Linked DNA regions of Homo sapiens: regions 2 and 3 are each linked to region 1. Evidence: fine-mapped expression QTL. A gene starts in region 1. Each other region holds a variant in brackets. All regions are shown on one strand. Distances are between the middles of the regions. Region 1 holds the start of MAP2K5 (mitogen-activated protein kinase kinase 5). Region 2 has its middle 16 kb from the start of SKOR1. Region 3 overlaps MAP2K5 (mitogen-activated protein kinase kinase 5).

Region 1 (2,500 bases):
ATAACCAAGGTTGGCCGGGCGCGGTGGCTCACACCTGTAATCCCCCCAGCACTTTGGGAGGCTGAGGTGGGCGGATCACGAGGTCAGGAGTTTGAGACCAGCCTGGCCAACATAGTGAAACCCAGTCTCTACTGAAAATACAAAAATGAGCGGGCACGGATGGCGCACGCCTGTAGTCCCAGTTACTCGGCAGGGGTTGGGGGCTGGTGGGGGTGGTAGTGCTGAGGCAGGAGAATCGCTTGAATCCGGGAGGCTGAGGTTGTGGTGAGTAGAGGTCGCGCCGTTGCACTCCAGCCTGGGCGACGGAGCGAGACTCCGTCTCAAAAAAAAAAAAAAAAAAGATAACCAAGGTTTATTGCTACTTCCGTGATATCACCATATCACCAACTGCGTAAGCAGTGCTATTTAGTTGAAAATACATGGACTAGACCGAATATTTCTGCAACAGTTTAATAAGAGACGATGATGCGACTACTGCAGCTGTCCCCAGGCAATTAAACTCTTCGGCGAATTTCTTTACTATTGCTTTTGAACAGGGAACTGTTTGCTATTTTAGGGCACTCGTGCGGTAAAGAACTTCACTGAAAAATGCAAATATGTTTTGCTAATGTGGGAGAAAGATGATGATCCTCTGAACCTGTGACTTGGAAGGGGGGATAAAAAAGAACTATTTCTTGAATTCTTGCCTTGCTCTTGCTGATTCGATGCACACAACCCCACGAACATTCAGATTCATGGCTTGACAAAGTGGGGATAACCGGGAGCTGCAGCCCCGTCTTTGAAGCTTTTGTAAAGACAAACGGTCTGCAATGTTAAGCCTTAAATTGGCTTTTGGCGGACTCCAGCCTTTTACCCTTCGTTTGGTAGATGTTTTCACCTCGCTGTCATTAAGCAGGGTCAGGAAATGGAAGGGCCGTGACCGGGTCGCCGCGGGCGCTCTGTGGGCGATGAGGGTCTCCTGAGCGAGCAAGACCAGTCTCTCCCCGACTCGCCACGCGCCACGCGCCGCGCGCCGCGCGCCGGTTCCTCGGCTTCCCACGCCGGGGGCGCATCCTCCCGGGAGCTGCTGCCCTTTTCCAACATGGCGCCGCGGGAGGCGGGTCCCGCTCGTCGGCTCCCGGGGTTCCGGCGCCGCGCGTTTTGGTTCCGGAGTAACAGTGTCGCCGCCGCCTTCCTCCTCCTCCTCTCGCCGCTACCGCCGTCGCCGCCGCCGCAGCCGCCGCCAGTCCGCGCGGCCTCGGGTGGCCGGAGCTCAGCCTGCGCGCGCCGCGCCCTGTGTCTCCGGGTGGGGCAGAAGACTCGCCCCTTGAACCTCCCGCGGGGACTCTCCGTGGTGTGGCGGCCCTGGGGCTCTTTCTTAATAGCCCCGGACTGAGTCCCCTCCAGTCGAGGACCCTCTCCTAGTCCACTGACGAGCGGTGGACACCTGCCGCTGTATCTCCCCCAAACCGAGTCCTTGCCCTGCTGCCTCCTCATACCCACACGGCGGCAGAGACCTTCACCATAGCGTTCGCTCAACTCCAGAACCTTCCGACCTCCGCTAGTTCCTGCGGGCCTTTGCCCGCTTCCCGGTGCACCCTCCCCGGGAGACACCTCAGACCCCCGACAGCCTGGGCAGGCTCGGTGCCTGCGGGTGCGTTCCTGATCACCCCTCCCCTCTTCCCTCCCCCTCATCCTCCATTCCCTTGTTTTCACCCTCTGTCCTCTGCCCGTCACTCCCCTTGTCACCTCTTGGAGCCCCCTCCTAACCAGCGGCCAGTGGGTTTCCCATACCCCAGGATGTGAGCCTCTTTAACCTGTAATGCTGTGGCTAGCCCTTGGCCCCTTTCCTGCCATGGAGAACCAGGTGCTGGTAATTCGCATCAAGATCCCAAATAGTGGCGCGGTGGACTGGACAGTGCACTCCGGGCCGCAGTTACTCTTCAGGGATGTGCTGGTGAGTGGTAATCTCAGTGTCCGGATGCCAGCAAGGGGGACTCAGGGACTTGAGTAGTCAGCACCTTGACCACTGGTGACCTGAGCCAGTGGCAATGGCTACTGCTGGCTTCCTGTGGAGGCAGTTTTATTGCTTCAGGCACAGCATTGATAAATTGCAACCACTAAAACCTGGCAAATGTCTAGGACCCTGGGGAGATAGATCAATCTGACTGAACCCCTGCCCTCAGAGAGCTCATGGCCCGGGCTGGGACACACATATAGACACAACCACGCAAATGCAAACTGCTGAATCTAGAAGAGAGGTTTTTTCCCCCCAAGTGTTTCGGGGAATGTCCTTGGACAGATTCCAGCCTTGTTTTTCTACTGAGTTCTCTGAACTTGGTGACCAGCTGAGAAAGGGAAAAAGGACAACTTTAACTTACCATGTTTGAGCACACTGTTTCATTAATTTATTTTGAGACAGGGCCTCACTCTGTCGCTCAGGCTGCAGTGCTGTGGCACGATCTCGGCTCACTGCAGCCTCTGCCTCCTGGGCTCAAGCGATTCTCCTACCTCAGCCTCC
Region 2 (2,844 bases), 270 kb after region 1:
CAGCTCAAATGGCATCTCAGTGAAACCTACTTAACCACTCTAAAATCGCACCCCTCCCGCACCTGCCCTGGGGCCGCCTGTGCCCATTGCTTGCACCATTTTCCTCTACTGCATTCAGAACTGTGTGATACATCACTAATTTTACTTATTTTCTCTTCTGTCTCCTTCCTCTTCTGCCCTTCATTAGAATGGGGTCTCCACAAGGGCAGAAATTCTAGTCTTTTTCACACTGTATCCCCAGTACAAAGAACAAGGCCTCAGCTCTGCACAATAAATGTGTGTGGGTCAAATGGCCAAAATTGTGGAGCTGTGACTCCCAGCCCATGTGCAGTCCAGTGCCCCATGGAAGGGCACCCTATGTGAGGCATCATGTGCTTCCCAGGGCAGAGTCGGCTCATCATCTTTTTAGTAATGCTTTTCAAGGCACAGGCTCCCAGCTTTCTCTGAGCACCTGCCATTTCCCTGGGGTTAGATGGTCACAGAATTGGATGGGACCCCGGCCAGGAAGACCCTGGCCCAGTGCTCAGGGCAGGGAGAACTGCGGGCAGTGCACATGATGGACTTTCTCAGGAAGAGGCGCTCAGAGAGTGGGGAAAGCTTAGGGGCTCCCACACGGGGCTGACTACCTTGGAATGTGAATCAGCCACCACCCAGACTAAAGCGTATCCTTATTTTGAGAAGATTCATCCAGCAAACCTGTCAGCCCCAAATCCCAAGTCAAGGGCGGTAGGAAAAGTGAGCAGGTACCTTGCTGGGCAGTGTGCTTAGGGCTCACTGTATCAATTCGTTTAATCCCCACCATGATCCCAGGAGGTAGATGGTGATACGATTATTCTGCCCGTTTTACAGATGAAGAAACTGAAACACAGAGAGGCCAGATGACTTACCCAAGGTCACCCAACAAGTAGCAAAGCACTGTTTGGGACCCAGAGCCCTGCTCTTAGCCACAGCTCTGATAGTCAACTCCACACACACAGCACACATGTGCACATATGTACACACAGACACATGCCCTGTCCTCTAGCACAGAGGCTCCCAAACTCTGGTTTGCCAAGATAATGTTAGTACCTTTGGGAACGGGCCAAGGATCTCTTTGACCAGCTCCCCAGGGATACAGGTGCAGAGCGCCCCACAACAGCACTGAGAAACACTGCTCCAGACGCATGCTTTGGCCTGGAGACCAACTTTCAGGGTGATCTTGAACAAAGCACGTCTCCTGTCTGAGTCTGTTTCCTCATCTGTCAATGTAGGGGTTGACCTCACGGTGTCCTGGAGCTGCTCCCAGTCCTGATGTCCCAGAGCAGAGTTCTCACCATTTGGGTTCATCCTGTGAGCATCCTTGCCCCCAAATTACATCACCCACATGCATGCACGCACAGAATTTTGTTCACAACTCTAGGGTTTGTGGAGACCCTGGAGCTCACTCACTCATGACCCCCTGTCAAGGGCCCCTACTTTGGGGCAGCCCCCAACTATAAATTCCCCTCTGCCTTGAAGTCGAGAAGATGGGGAGCTGAGTGACCCCTGAGGGGTTCTCCTGCTAACACCCCTCTGGCCGGAGGCAGGTCCCTCTTTGGCCTGTTGAAGTGATTCCTCTAGTCAC[C/T]GTTGGGGGCCAGAGGCCAAGCTGCCCCTGCCCTCAGAGGTCGCGGGAAGGCTAAGACCTAGAACACTGCAGTGCCTGAGACTGGCCTAGGCAGCATGAGCTCTTTCCCTGCTGGAAAGCCACCCCCGCCCACCCTCACCCCATCCATGTGGCTAATTCCTATTCTTCCTTTCAGGCCCCTCTCAAACAGCACCTCCTCTTTGCTGCCTTTTTTTTTTTTTTTTTTTTTTTTTGAGACAGAGTTTCGCTCTTGTTGTCCAGGCTGGAGTGCAATGGTGCACTCTCAGCTCACAACCTCTGCCTCCCAGGTTCAAGCGATTCTTCTCCCTCAGCCTCCCGAGTAGCTGGGATTACAGGCATGCACCACCATGCCCGGCTAATTTGTGTATTTTTAGTAGAGATGGGGTTTCACCATGTTGGTCAGGCTGGTCTTGAACACCTGACCTCAAGTGATCTGCCTGCCTCAGCCTCCCAAAGTGCTGGGATTACAGTCGTGAGCCACCACGCCTAGCTGGCAGCTTCTTTATTTCCTTCTCTGGATATAGACTGTGAGCCCTTTGAGGGCAGGGATGAGGCTAACTCACCTCTATCCCAGCACCTGGCCCAGGGCCTGCATAGGGAGGGTGCCTGTGGTGTGGGACGGTAGGAGGGAGGGAAGGTAGGGTGCAGAGATGGGGCCCTCAGACCTGAGGCCCTTGGGGCCTGTCACTGTCCTGCTCGAATCTCTTGCTCCAATCCTCAATATCGCCCACTCACTTTCTAACTGGAGCTTCTGAGAGACGAAACCCTCACTGGAGGCAGCCTCAGGCCTCTCAGACCTTCAGGGGAGCCTAGAAGGAAGTGTTTCCAGGACAGGAGGATCCTCACGGGGCCCCAGTTCACAATGACAGGCAGGTGCCTCCTCTGCTTCTAGGTCTCTGGCTTGAAGGCCAGGAGGCCCTCTCACACTCAGCCCATCGTCCTTGCTTCTGTCTTTGGTTTTCACATGTGGGGAATGCAGGATACAGAATCCCAGGGCTTTGGAGATGTTCCAACAGGTCCACTGGGGCAGAGGAAGGAGAGGTGGAACCCTCTTCTCCAGATGTGGCGGGGACCTTGTGGTCCAAAGTAGTGTGACCCAGAGCCCCTACCCAAGGCCCAGCCCAGTTAGGGGGTTGGTCAGGCCAGTGAGGTGAAATGGATGGTACAGCCTCACTGAGGGAAGCTGCGGGTGCCCTGCCTGAACAGACCTGCATCTTTGG
Region 3 (2,500 bases), 190 kb after region 1:
TGAGATTCCTAATGTCTAGAGTAGTTAATCAGTGAGATTTGATGGGTGATGAGTCTAAGAAATGGATTTTGCCATGGCCAGGTGCAGTGGCTTACGCCTGTAATCCCAGCACTTTGGGAGGCCGAGGTGGGCGGATCACGAGGTCAGGAGATTGAGACCATCCTGGCTAACATGGTGAAACCCCGTCTCTACTAAAAATACAAAAAAAAAAAATTAGCCGGGCGTGGTGGCGGGCACCTGTAGTCCCTGCTGAGGCAGGAGAATGGCTTGAACCCGGGAGGTGGAGCTTGCAGTGAGCCGAGATCACGCCACTGCACTCCAGCCTGGGCAACAGAGCAAGATTCCGTCTCAAAAACAAAAAAAAGAAATGGATTACTGCCACATTTGACAAGTGAAGCACATGAAAGCTGTGGTCAAATTTGAGAAGAGGCTATTTACCTTTGCAGTATGGTTTTCCTGAATGTCTAAATATATCTTTACTTGATCAGTCAAGTGGAAGTTGGAAAATTCTAATACTATGCTGAACTCCCTAGTTAGCAACAACCTTTATACCAGAGTTGGGGCGGGAAACAACTGTATTCCTTGAATCATGATAGAATGTTGTCACCAAATTGTTACTTCTATCTGAAATAATAGAAGCAGCTTTGATGCCGTTAGGCCTATTTCCTAAGTTTTTCAACAGAAGTTGGGGTGCGTCGTTGCTAGAACCACTAATGACTTTTGGTGGAGTTGGCATTTATTTTACAGGCTTTGTACTATAAGCTGAAGATTGGGAAAGGATACTTTATAAATGCCTTTCCTACCCCTCCCTTATGCCCTCAAAAAAAGCACATGAAGAAAAATGTGTATTTTTATAGTGTCACTGAGGCTGAGTTATGGAATAACACCTTCTCTTTGGCCCACGTTATGTCATTTGAACTCCTACCACTCTGTGAAATAGCCTCCCCTCATAAATTGGACAAACAGAATGGCTGATTTGCTCACTGTTAAAACTGTGACTGGTTTGGTTTCTTTGAATCCCAAGTGCAGTAGGCAGGAGTGAATCATAGACTCTTAGAGTTGGAAGGGATCTTAGACATCATCAAATCAA[A/G]CTTCTCTACAATGTCTCTGAAAAGCAAACATCCACACTGCTTGAACACTTCCAGTGACAAGAAACTCACTATCTTACAAAGCATCCACAGGGTCAAAGCAGTGTTCTATTTATCAAGCTGAGAACTATCTCATCCTAAGTGTCACTCACTAGTCTGATCCTAGAACACATGAGAGCCTTTCATATATCCTTAAGATCACATTGGTTTGATTGTTCCTAGGACTAGGGACAGTGCCAGGGAATTGCTGCTGTGAACCTAAAGTCTAATCAGGGCACCAGACCTGAGTTGTCTTCACTAGTGGCAAATTGAGAGGAGTGGCCTATTGGAAGGAGCCCTGGACCATGAGCCAGAGTATTAGAATTAGAATTAGGTGCTACCACAGTCTCACTGCAGGTCTTAATTGTTGCTTTGTAACTCTGAGGTGTCAGTTTCCTCATCTCTAAAATGAGGATTCTAATGCCTACCTCTTCTATCTGATTAAAGGAGGTATGCTGATCAAATGAGACTATGGATATGAAACCACTCTGAAAAGTACAAAGGGCCACCCATCTGGATCAGATGTTGGGCTGCAGCACAAAACAGAATTTCCCAGCTATCAATCATAGGTTGTAAAAGGATGTTCTTAGCAACATGCCAGCCACAATTGGAGCAGAGTATAAAATGAGCAGAGGGTAAAGTGGGGAGGAGGGGCCGGCTTCAAGACTTGTCTTTCCCCCAGCTCAGTGTCAGTGCTGCTGACAGCATCATTAGCAGCCCCTCTTCCTGCTGGTGACACAGTGTGTACCCAGTGAGGTCGCAGAGAGGGAGGAGTGTTGGGAAGATACTAGGGACAGTCAGTGCCCTGGGAGCAACATAAAGGTTAAAGGGCTGGGTTTTTGTTGAGATAGCCATTCTGTATGAGTTTCATTGTTTTGTGGGTTGGGTCTTTGTTATTTGAAAGCACTGTTTTAGTTTCCTTTAGGCCTTTGGGTTGCATAACTTCCTTGGCATGCAGTTTAGGGTTCTAAAGAAAAAAAACATGAGGAGCACAGTCTTATTACTACTGCCTATAACAGGAAAAACAATAGTGTCTTGGCTTCACCTGGCACCTTTCCCACATAGGGTTCCAGTCTCAGGCTGTTACCTGACTCAGGCTGTGCATTCTACCTGCAGGGACTTATTTCCAGCCTCTAGGTGAGCCAACTCAGGCTCAGAGAGGCAAAGTACCTTGCTTTAGGCAGGAATGGGTACAGTTAGGTCTAGGACTTGCAGACAAATAAGCCAACTCCCTGGCTCTTTAACTTCTTAATTCGTTTGGCTATTCATACCCCTGTTCTCCTTTCCACTCTGCCCCACAACCCTTCTTCTAGTTTGCCCTCTCTGCCCTAGGGAGGCCTCTTGTATAGATGAGAAATGCTGAGCATTGGAGG

Evidence for each region. PIP is the estimated chance that this variant, and not a neighbour inherited with it, causes the effect.
Region 2: its variant is the best candidate, but not a certain one, in a credible set for the expression of MAP2K5 in whole blood (TOPMed, PIP 0.50).
Region 3: its variant is the best candidate, but not a certain one, in a credible set for the expression of MAP2K5 in whole blood (TOPMed, PIP 0.88).

What each region holds. Positions count from the first base shown.
Region 1 is chr15:67,541,535-67,544,034 of GRCh38, forward strand. It overlaps MAP2K5 (mitogen-activated protein kinase kinase 5), which reads left to right and starts at 1,169. Exons shown (of 22, transcript NM_145160.3): 1 at 1,169-1,936. The coding sequence starts at 1,802. It overlaps MAP2K5-DT (MAP2K5 divergent transcript), which reads right to left and starts at 1,096. Exons shown (of 1, transcript NR_186334.1): 1 at 1-1,096. RefSeq lists enhancers at 109-609, 262-311 and a silencer at 1,185-1,304.
Region 2 is chr15:67,808,484-67,811,327 of GRCh38, forward strand. No RefSeq gene overlaps it. Among named protein-coding and RNA genes, the nearest start is that of SKOR1, 16 kb to the right of the region's middle. The variant C/T (reference allele first, on the strand shown) is at 1,604.
Region 3 is chr15:67,729,414-67,731,913 of GRCh38, forward strand. All of the region lies in intron 17 of MAP2K5 (mitogen-activated protein kinase kinase 5), which reads left to right. Among named protein-coding and RNA genes, the nearest start is that of SKOR1, 95 kb to the right of the region's middle. The variant A/G (reference allele first, on the strand shown) is at 1,091.